3 linked regions of the Homo sapiens genome follow. The protein of the gene in region 1 purifies or fractionates together with the protein of each later gene. This does not show direct contact. Each region holds a gene or a part of one and is shown on either strand. Other genes may lie near its edges. The genes, in order: NFATC2IP, ACTR6 and ELF2.

Evidence for each region.
Region 2: the proteins of NFATC2IP (region 1) and ACTR6 purify together in Homo sapiens (affinity purification with mass spectrometry; 2 studies listed by BioGRID and IntAct, with this or other methods). This does not show direct contact.
Region 3: the proteins of NFATC2IP (region 1) and ELF2 purify together in Homo sapiens (affinity purification with mass spectrometry; 2 studies listed by BioGRID and IntAct, with this or other methods). This does not show direct contact.

The regions. Positions count from the first base shown.
Region 1 is NC_000016.10:28,953,868-28,957,616, forward strand, and holds part of NFATC2IP (NFATC2-interacting protein), read left to right. Parts: exon of another isoform or gene 1-697; coding exon 698-815; exon of another isoform or gene 816-1,131; intron 1,132-2,110; coding exon 2,111-2,191; intron 2,192-2,283; coding exon 2,284-2,470; intron 2,471-3,749. UniProt on the Homo sapiens protein: In T-helper 2 (Th2) cells, regulates the magnitude of NFAT-driven transcription of a specific subset of cytokine genes, including IL3, IL4, IL5 and IL13, but not IL2.
Region 2 is NC_000012.12:100,199,138-100,202,886, reverse strand, and holds the start of ACTR6 (actin-related protein 6), read right to left. Parts: upstream 2,073-3,749; 5' UTR 2,036-2,072; coding exon 1,968-2,035; exon of another isoform or gene 1,827-1,967; intron 1-1,826. UniProt on the Homo sapiens protein: Required for formation and/or maintenance of proper nucleolar structure and function. Plays a dual role in the regulation of ribosomal DNA (rDNA) transcription.
Region 3 is NC_000004.12:139,072,590-139,076,338, forward strand, and holds part of ELF2 (ETS-related transcription factor Elf-2), read right to left. Parts: intron 979-3,749; coding exon 865-978; intron 1-864. UniProt on the Homo sapiens protein: Isoform 1 transcriptionally activates the LYN and BLK promoters and acts synergistically with RUNX1 to transactivate the BLK promoter. Isoform 2 may function in repression of RUNX1-mediated transactivation.

The sequences.
Region 1 (3,749 bases):
TGATCATGCCACTGCACTCCAACCTGGGTGACACAGTAGGACCTGGTCTCAAAAAAAAAAAAAGAAAAACGAAATGCAGAATCATAGGCCTCTTGCAGCTGCCATAGTTAGTTAGGACAGGATTTCATGACTTCAGCATTACTGGCATTTTTTGGACTGGAAAATTCTTTGGTGTTGGAAACTGTCCTGTGCATTGTAGAAAGTTTAGCGGCATCCTGACTTCCATCCCTGGGAAGTATTATACCTCAGCCCCCTCGCCCTCCACATTTTGATAACCAATATTGTCTCTAAACATTGCTATATGTCCCCGCAGAGGCAAAATTGTCCCTGGTTCAGAGCCACTGATCTAGGGTTTCTTATCATTTTTTAATTTTCACAGTATTTATTTTTGTGGTTTGTGATGATCTTTTATTGACAGCGGGCAAATAGAAATTTCTATATTATAGAAAATAATACCTGGTTTCCTTTCATGAGAAATTTAAGTTAATTTTAAGTTAATATGAGCTATCTTTATACTAAATAGCAGTCTCATCCCCTGCCCCCTTTCCCAATATTATCATGTGGCCCTGTGTGTGCCAGGGGCTCCGTGGTCTCCTCCTTTCCTAGGACCTTCTTGAAGCCTCTGACTTGTTTCTTCTTGGCCTTCGCTGGCCTCCCTTGGATAACCCCCTTCTACCTTCTCTTCCTCTGCCCCCAGAGGCAGAGCTGGCAGATTCGAGTGGTCTCTACCATGAGGGCTCCCCATCACCAGGCTCTCCCTGGAAGACAAAGCTGAGGACTAAGGATAAAGAAGAGAAGAAAAAGACAGAGTTTCTGTGAGTGAGGCCAGGGCCCTTGGGCCCTGGGAGCAGGAAGTGAGTTGGAGGGGTAAGCGGAGGCAGGCAGGACTCTTGGGTGACTCCTGAAAGGTTAAGAAGAAGGGATAGAAGGACTGTTGAGTTTCATGTGGGGAATGAATCGCTTGGGGAAAAGAGGTGGCTTACCCCGGAGGGTGACAGTGAACCCTTCAGGATCACCCTTGGGAGTGGATTCTGAGACCCTAGTAATGTGAGCTTAAGGTATGGTTCCAATCCAGCTTCCCTGTCCTCTCTGTGCTTCTCTTTCTTCATCTATAAAACCCCGTTTTATAGCCTGGGAAACATAGAGAGACCCTGTCTCTACAAAAAATAAAAAAAAATTAGCCTGGCATGGTGGCGCATGCCTGTGATCCCAGCTGCTCGGGAGGCTGAGATGGGAAAATCGCTTGATCCCAGGAGTTAGAGGCTGCAGTGAGCCATGATCGTGCCACTATACTCCAGCCTGGGTGACAGAGTGAGACCCTGTCTCTAAAAAGCAAACAAACAGACAGACAAAAAATACCCCCAAACCTGGGGATAATAGTGGCATTTGTGTCAATGAATTGCTGAGTCAATCAAGAGTTAACACTTGGCTAGGCACAATGGCTCTTGCCTGTAATCCCAGCACTTTGGGACGCCAAGGGGAGTGAATCACTTGAGCCCAGGAGTTCAAGACCAGCCTGGGCAACACTGGACATATGGTAAGTGCTTGCCGTCTGTCGGATATTATTGGACATTTTCCTGGGAAGTGACAGTCTCAAAAATGAGGCATTTTCTTCCCTAATATTCAGGTCATGTAAATATAAAAATGATGCCTCAGGCTTTCCCTCTCCCCTACCCCTGCCTTCCAGTGAAATGGGGGTTATTGGAAGCTGCTTCCTCTTTATTTTTTAAATGTATTTTTACATTTTTAGAGATAGGGCCTCACTCCATTGCCCAGGCTGGAGTGCAGTGGCGTGATCATAGCTTACTGCAGCCTCAAATTCCTGGGTTCAAGCGACCCTCCCACCTCAGCCTCCTGAGTAGCTGGGACTACAGCTGTGTTCTACTATGCCTGGCTAATTATGTAGAAATAGGGTCTCCCCATCTTGCCCAGCCTGGTCTTGGACTCCTGGGCTCGAGCGATCCTCCTGGCTCAGCCTCCAAAAGTGCTGGGATTACAGGTGTGAGCCATTGCGTCCGACTATGCTTGATTGTCCAAGGATCTGATTTCTAGGATTTGTGGGGCCAGTCTCTCTCCATTGCCTCCGTCCTGCTGTCTCTTGCTTCTACAGGGATCTGGACAACTCTCCTCTGTCCCCACCTTCACCAAGGACCAAAAGCAGAACGCATACTCGGGCACTCAAGAAGTTAAGGTGCCAAGTGCAGGGGCTCTGGCTGGGATGGAAGAGGGCAATCCGGGAGGGTGGCTGACTCCAGTTGACCCAGAGTCCTGTCTGCACTGCAGTGAGGTGAACAAGCGCCTCCAGGATCTCCGTTCCTGTCTGAGCCCCAAGCCACCTCAGGGTCAAGAGCAACAGGGCCAAGAGGATGAAGTGGTCTTGGTGGAAGGGCCCACCCTCCCAGAGACCCCCCGACTCTTCCCACTCAAAATCCGTTGCCGGGCTGACCTGGTCAGATTGCCCCTCAGGATGGTGAGTGCCTGAGGCCCATGGGAGAAGGACCCAGGAGCTGCTTCTGGAGAGATGGTGGTGTCCAGCAGGGGTGTCCTGGCAGAAGGGACTGTCATCCTTTTCCCATCCTGCTCTCTAGAGCTGCCCATCATTCTTTTCAGTCTGTCCTGCCTTCACACTTTTTGTTTCCTCTGTCTGCATTTTCCCAACGCTCCCCTCTCTTTCTGGCAAACTTTCTACCCATTCTTCAAGGCTCCTCATAAGCATCCTGTGTCTTTTTTTTTCCTTCAAAAAGTGGTCTTACTGTGTCCAGGCTGGTTCCGAACTCCTGGGCTCAAGTGATCGTCCCTCATTGACCTCCCAAAGTGCTGGGATTCCAGGTGTGAAGCATCCTGTCTTCTAAGAAGCTTTTTTTGGTAGTCTCTCTTGCCTTCCTCCCTAGGAACCTGGGCTTCCCTCCTGGGCTTGCTCTCACTGCCCTGGACACAGCAGATGTCACTCAGTCACCCTGAACTCCACCAGCTTCCTGGCGAAGCCTGATATTTTTGTAGGGATGACCCTGTTTCAACACCAGGAATGATAACAGACATTACCATTACTGATGCACAGTGCATCAGTCAAGCAACTAAGGCAGAGGCTGCAAACTGGCAGCCCATGGCTTTTCCAACAGTGTGTCTGCTTTCTTTGTAGACTTATTTTATTTTATTTTATTATTTTTTATTATTTTTATTTTTTGAGACGGGGTCTCACTCTGTCGCCTAGGCTGGAGTGCAGTGGCACGATCTCTGCTCACTGAAACCTCCGCCTCCCAGGTTCAGGCGATTCTCCCACCTCAGCCTCCCGAGTAGCTTGGACTACAGGTGCCCGCCACCATGCCCGACTAATTTATGTATTTTTAGTGGAGGCAGGGCTTCACCATATTGGCCAGGCTGGTCTTGAACTCCTGATCTCAAGTGTTCCCCTGTCTCAGCTTCCCAAAGTGTTGGGATTACAGGCATGAGCCACCGTGCCTGGCCTATTTTATTTTTTAAACATAGAGATGGGGGCCAGGCATGGTGGCTCATTCCTGTAATCCCAGCACTTTGGGAGGCCAAGGTGAGAGGATCACTTGAGGCCAGGAGTTCGAGACCAGCCTGGGCAAAATAGTGAGACCTTGTCTCTACTAAAAATAAAAAAATTAACCAGGCATGGTGGCACATACCTGTAGTCCCAGCGACTTGGGAGGCTGATGCAAGAGGATCTTCTGAGTCCAGGAGTTGGGGGCTGCAGTCAGCTGTGATCATGCCACTGCACTGCAGCC
Region 2 (3,749 bases), on another chromosome or scaffold:
AGAAGTAGCAACTTTTTTTTTTTTTTTTTGAGACCGAGTCTCGCTTTGTCGCCCCAGGCTGGAGTGCAGTGGCGTGATCTCGGCTCACTGCAAGCTCCGCCTCCCAGGCCCACGCCATTCTCCCGCCTCAGCCTCCCAGGTAGCTGGGACTACAGGCGCCTGCCACTACGCCCGGCTAATTTTTGTATTTTTAGTAGAGACAGGGTTTCGCCGTGTTAGCCATGATGCTCTGGATCTCCTAACCTCGTGATCCACCCACCTGGGCCTCTTGCTGCTTGCCATGAGCTTACAATCTGGTTTGGAAGACAAACTAGAGCCATTATTAATTATACACACATGTATGCATACAAATGTGTCTGTATGTGTATACGAGATGACACTGGGATAATACTGTAAAAAAATGTTTTACACCTGCTTATTTCACTTATAATACTGTCAGCATTTTCTCTACATGTTTAAATGTTCTTTGAAGACATAATTTTAAGAAGCTTGAATTTGTTATCAGTCTCAGGTTGTATTTTGGTGTATTTAGCCAATATGCTATTCCTGATTATTTAGCTTCCTTCCCATTTTTTGGCTGCCTGTATACGATGACTATGAATAATACAAAGCACTTCTAATTAATTCTCTAGGTAATAACAGAATTGCTGTGTCATGGCCCGGTGCGGTGGCTCACACCTGTAATCCCAGCACTTTAGGAGGCTGAAGCAGGCAGATCACGAGGTCAGGAATTCCAGACCAGCATGGCCAAAATGGTGAAACCCCCGTCTCTACTAAAAATACAAAACTTAGCCAGGCGTGGTGGTGCGCAACTGTAGTCCCAGCTACTTGGGAGGCTGAGGCATGAGAATGGCTTGAACCCGGGAGGCAGAGGTTGCAGCGAGCCGAGATCGTGCCACTGCACTCCAGCCTGGACAAGAGAGCCAGACTCCCTCTCCAAAAAAAAAAAAAAAAATTGCTTTGTCAGCTGGGTGTAGGGCTCACGCCCCTAATACCAGCACTTTGGGAGGCCAACGCGGGTAGACTGCTTGAGGCCAGGGGCTCGAGACCGGCCTGGCCAACATGATGAAACCCCGTCTCTAACAAAAATACAAAAAATTCGCTGGGAGTGGTGGTGCACGCCTATAATCCCAGCTACTCTGGAGGCTGAGGCGGGAGAATCACTTGAATTCAGGCTGCAGTGAGCTGAGATCGCACCACGGCACTCCAGCCTCGGTGACAATGATAATGATACACATTGCCAAAACGTTTTCCAGAAAGATTGTAACAATTTACATTCCTACTCAGTTTGATTTCCCTCTTTCATTTCTGTTTCAAAAGAAATGAAAAAGAAGGAAAGGAGGGAGGAAGGAAAGAATTTTTTTTAATGCTCTGTTAATTTGATAAAGGAAAGGCGTGTCTTTAGGTTTGCTTATTTATTCAAACATATATTTTATGACTATACATGTTATGAATGCCATTGTATTAACAGTACTTCTGTTTAATTGACCTTACCAACTAGGTCGGCCAGTAGGCCAAAGTCTTCAAAGCCTCTAGATCCTAAGACCGTGATTTTTAGACTTTTGGAGGGTCATAGAACCCTTTGAGAATCTAATGAAACCTATAATCTTGTACCCAGGAAAATCCGCATACACCCAAACACCGTGCCCATAGTTTCCAAAGGCTGATGAACTTTACGGACCCTTCTGTCAGGAACGCATCTCTATAAGCCTATTTTCTTTGGCTATTTCCTGTTACGAAATAAAACATATATCCCACTTCCGGGGCCTCGCAGCCCAAAACTAAAACCAAAATCAATTTCAATTCAAAGCATCACAATCACCCACCCAGCTCCAACCAGGGAATCCCTCTGGCTAAGTCAGGGCCGCGCGGGGGTGTCTGCAGTTCATTGATGTCCGGAGATGAAACGTAGCACATGAAACCACTAGGCGTATATATCTTGTCCCTCGGAGAAAGAAAGTACTTACGACACATTTTCATGGCTGTAACCGATTTTGGCGTTGTAAGCTCCATTATCCAGCACTAAGGTCGTCATCTCACCACCAACCACACCGCAGCCGTAGTTGTTTTCCCTTTCCGACCCCTCTGCTCGAGCTTTTTCCGGTACTCTATGGTTTGTTGGGCGGAGCGTTAGGACGCGCCTCTGGTCACCTTAGCAACGGAGGACGCCGGAAGTCGGAGATGCTAAGCAGCACCGAATGTTAGGGGCTGTGCTTCCAAACTTAACCTGTTTATGTGGTGGCGAGATTTGACTACTATGTGCTTTCTCGCTCATTTCGTATTTGTTTTTAACTACGCAGATTAATTCGCGCAAGTTTTTTCTAATCCTGTAGAGAACCGGCTGCGTGTGTGTGTGTGTGTGTGTGTGTGTGTGTGTCTTCCAATCGCATTCTTCAGACGGTGACATTCTTTGAAGAAAAAAGTGCAAAACTTGCTCTTGGACTCACATTCATACTCTCCTCTTCCCCAGCCCACTTGCTCTTCAGGACGAAGCTGAGTGAGTCTTTCTCATCCAAAAAAGGCTTTTGGGCCGGACGCGGTGGCTCACGCCTGTAATCCCAGCACTTTAGGAGACCAAGGCAAGCAGATCACTTGAGGTCAGGAGCTTGAGACCAGCCTGACCAACACGGCGAAACCCCGTCTCTATTAAAAATACAAAAAGTAGCCGGGCGAGGTGGCGGGCGCCTGTAATCCCAAGTACTCGGGAGGCTGAGGCGGGAGAATTGCTTGAACCGGGGAGGCGGAGGTTGCAGTGAGCCGAGATGGCTCCACTACACTCCAGCCTGGGCGACAGAGCGAGACTCCGGCAGGGCGGGGACTTGGCAGGTGCGGGAGGCAGGACCTGGCTTCCGGGGCGTCGCGGGGGCAACGGCCAGCGGGCGGGGGCAAGGGCCAGCGGGCTAGGACAACTGCCAACGGGCTTGGAGGGGGGCGTTCTACAAATTCCAGGCCACTTTGAGCGCCTGAGAGAGGAGCGGGGCGGCGGGAAGGGGGCACCGCGGGGGCAGGGAGCGCAGCAGCCGCAGCGCGAAGGCGCGGGGGCCGGGGAACAAACGGTTGGCGCGCAGGCAGCCATACCGGGGCCGGAACCCGGGCAGAGGAGGGCAGCGACGGCGATGGGGAGGCTGCAGAGCCCGGGGCGGGTACCGCGCGGGAACCAGCGCGACTGCGTGGCTACCGCAGCCGTCGGTTCGTGTTGGACGGGCGCCGCTGCTGCCTCTGCTACTTCAAGAACCCCCACGACCCGCTGCCCCTCGGCCACCTGGACATAGCAGAAGCCTGCTTCAGCTACCAGCGCGCCGACGAGGCGGCGGAGCAGCCTGCGCACTTCCAGGTGCGCAGCGCGGGAGCCGCCACGGTGCTTGAGGTGGGAACTCGCGCCCTGCAAGCGCCTGGGCCCTTCTGTCGGCGCTCCTTGCCTCCCCTGGGGGCCTGCCCCATCCACCCTCCTTTCTCCAAGGCCTCCTCGCACCCTGCCAACGTCGGCCTGCCTTTCCCCACTTCTCCACATCCCGTCCTCGTTCCTATCTCCTCCCCTCCACCTGGGCTTAGGCCCGGGTGGCTGGGGCTACCCAGCCCAGTCTCCTTCCTCAGACACTTTGACCCATTATCTCCCTCTGCTCCTTCCCTCTGACCCCTCTCTAGTGTCTTCTCACCCCCAGCATCCCGTGGATGTCCGGTGCAGCCCTCCCAAGCATTCATAACCGTAGGCTTCTGCCCCAGGGGCCTCCTTTAGAACTCTGCTAGGA
Region 3 (3,749 bases), on another chromosome or scaffold:
ATGTAACAGTCCTGATGTTTTAGTCACTAAAACAGTAGGTACAAATTGTTATCTGGTATTCTAGTACATACAGTAATGTTGCTCTGGCTTCCTTCTAATGTGCACAAATAACCAAGATATGACATTTCTATTTCAATTAAGAGATACAATTAATACATACTATCTTAGATTAATAGACTGACCAAAAATGCTACAAATTTATTCTCATATCTCTGAGTAATACACAGGATTCTATTCAAATTAAGAAGTATGGTTGCTCTTATTGTGAATCCCAATGAGAAGGTGAGCCAGTATTTTTGTATCAAGTCAAATTAACATTTGGGCATTAAATTAAAATTAGGACAAATCAGGATTGGACAAAATGACTATCAAAGTTTTTCTTAAAGACTAAGAGGGACCACAAAAAAATAAAAACTCACACTGAAGGATGTGTGAAAAAAATGTCAAAAGCTCCCTTGTCTCTCTACCATGTGTGGTTCTCTGGAGTTACTGCCTATTTATCATTGAATAAAGGATTGAAAGTGGTCCTAACAGGCAACTGCTCCCATCTATCATACTCTGAAGGACTATGAAGGCTTATAACTTGCCCAGAGTTAAGGAAATAGACATGACAGTACAAATAGCTATTTAATAAATATTTGTCTATCTATAGTGGGTATTTTCTGTATCATTTGTTATGAAAATTAAGTATTTAAGACTTGGAGGCCTTGACAAATAAAGTTCAATTACTGCTGTCATGTATTCATGTGTAATGTACCTTTGAGAATTCCCAACAATTCCATTGGATTAAAAAAACAAAAAACTTTATTTTAGACATATGAAGTAGTATGACACGTTTAACATAAGAATGAACAGTTTACATACCAGGACTTCTTGAATCCCTCAAGCAGGTAGGAGATTCCATATGAAGCAGGGCTTCAGCAGCTTCAATTGTCTTATCTGTACAGTGTGCATTACTGCTGTGAACTGATGCTTCCACTGGAGGAAAAATAAGTTCTACTCAATTAAAAATACACTAAACACATGACTAAAACATATTACTAAGAAATAAACATATTCACTCCTGAAAGAGAAATGAAAAATAAATAAATATAAAATAACATGACTAACTCTAAGCCATTGATATCTATTCGTCTATATAAATTACAGAAATAATTTTTAAAAAGCTAATATCTACATTTTATAAAATGAATACTGATATAAAATGAATATTGATTATGAAGTAACCAATGACATTGATTAGAAATTACTGAGAAGTTGGCCAGGCATGGTGGTTCATGCCTGTAATCCCAGCACTCTGGGAGGCCAAGGAGGGTAGACCTTGGTCAGGAGTTGAAGACCAGCCTGACCAACATGGTGAAACCCCGTCTCTACCAAAAAATAGAAAAATTAGCTGAGCGTGGTGGCACATGCCTGTAATCCCAGCTACTCAAGAGGCTGAGGCTGGAGAATCGCTTGAACCCAGGAGGTAGAGGTTGCAGTGAGCTGAGATCGCACCACTGCGCTCCAGCCTGGGCGACAGAGTGAGACTCTGTCTCAAAACAACAACAACAAAAGAAATTACTGAGAAGTTTCTGAATCTTACTCAAAGGAAAACAAAGAAAGATCCTTGAAATTTGAACCCTGCATCAATTTTAGGCCAATACTAACTTGTGGGAAGGGAGGAAGGGTCAGGGAGAGGCTGGTTGTAGATTAAAAACCCTGTGAGGGCAATTATATATTTTGATGTATTGCCATTAAAGCCAGGGCACCTAACAGAACCATGCTGCGCTAATTTAATCAATTAATTCAATTCTTACAGACCCTCTTGAATGACTGAGTAGAGTAAGCCCTCCGTGTCCAAGGGTTCCGCATCAGCAGAGTCAAACAACCTCAGATTGAAAATATTGCAGGGGGGCCGGGTGTGGTGGCTCACACCTGTAAGCACTTTGAGAGGCCAAGGCGTGCGGATCACGAGGTCAAGAGATCGAGACCATCCTGACAAACATGGTGAAACTCCATCTCTATCAAAAACATAAAAATTAGCCGGGCGTGGTGGCGGGCACCTGTAGTCCCAGCTACTCAGGAGGCTGAGGCAGGAGAATCGCTTGAACCTGGGAGGCGGAGGTTGCAGTGAGCCAAGATCACACCATTGCACTCCAGCCTGGGCGACAGAGTGAGACACTGTCTCAAAAAAAAAAAACAAAAAGAAAATATTGCAGGGGAGGGGGAGGCAATAAAAAAAATACAACAATTAAAAATACAGTGTAAATACTACAGCATTTTGTATAAGGGACTTGACTGAGCATTCTAGGATTTTGGTATCTGCCAGGTGGAGGAGACATCCTGGAACCAATACCCCAGGTATACTGAGGGACAACTGTACTCTCCAGGCAGAGGTGACTAAAGATGGATAACAACATGCATTATATTTACTGCCAGAGTACTTGAGAACTTTCTTTATAATTAACCTCGCTCTCTTCAGAGCCTCAGTGGGTTTTAACCTAAGACTTTTTCTTAGAGTTTATTCTTCCCATGAGGCCTTCAAATTCTACCACGCTTTGTATCTCTCCTCTTCTAGCACTTCCTTTATGCTTTGCTGATTATGTTACTTGTAAAACAATGTGTACAGCAGTCAGTGGTTTGGGCTTTCAGGTCCAACAGCTTGGGTTCCAGTCTCTGCCACTTATTTCTGTTACCTGAGGTAAGCAACTTAATCTCTCTCATAGAGCAAGAATATGATAATTTCTTATCATTCCTGTAAGATTATAAACTTCTTGAGGTCTGGGGGGCTAGCTTAACCCATCTTTACATATGCCATGGTTCCCAACATAGACTTTTCATGGAGCAGACATGCGGATTTTTATTTTTATTTTTTTTGAGACGGAGTCTCGCTCTGTTGCCCAGGCTGGAGTGCAGTGGCATGATCTAGCTCACTGCAACCTCCACCTCTCAGGTTCAAGCGATTCTTCTGCCTCAGCCTCCTGAGTAGCTGGGATTACAGGCACATGCCACCATACCGGATTAATTTTTGTATTTTAGTAGAGACGGGGTTTCACCATGTTGGCCAGGCTGGTTTTGAACTCCTGACCTCAGGTGATACACCCGCCTCGGCCTCTCAAAGTGCTGGGATTACAGGCATGAGCCATCACGCCAGGCAGGTATTTATTTTATGTACTGAATTAAGGACAACCCACTGACCTTACAAGAAAATCAGCAATTCAAGAACAAATTTTATTATCTTAATAATATATTAATTTCACATCCTGACTTAAAATGTTGAACAGTTAACTTAGTAAGACGTTCTGAAACATGAATATTTAAGAGTCTCTAACTTGACAGATTTTTTTTAAGATGTCCCCTAAAGGAACTAAAAGTAAATGTTTATACAAATTTCATAAAGTCATATTACAAATTCATAAGCACTATACACTAACGATATGAATCTTTTAAAATTGTTTCCAGGAAACTTTTAATTGGGGGAAAAAATCCAGTTCATCTCAAAGTTCCCTAAATGCTAAAGCCTCAGTCTTAAACAACAGTCATTTGGAAAGCATTTATTTTAAAAATCCAATGACTGTTTTACCACCTGTTGCACATCATCCACAAGGTACTGGGTCTCTCCAGTTGCTCTTTCCATTTATGGAAATCTGTTCAAAGCTAAATGGTTCCAGAGAGGCAGCCAAACCTCTAAGTAAATCTATCTTTAGGTGACCCTGCTTACTCTTATCTGCAGCTTCACTGAAGCAAAGGATTCAATCAGCCTGTGT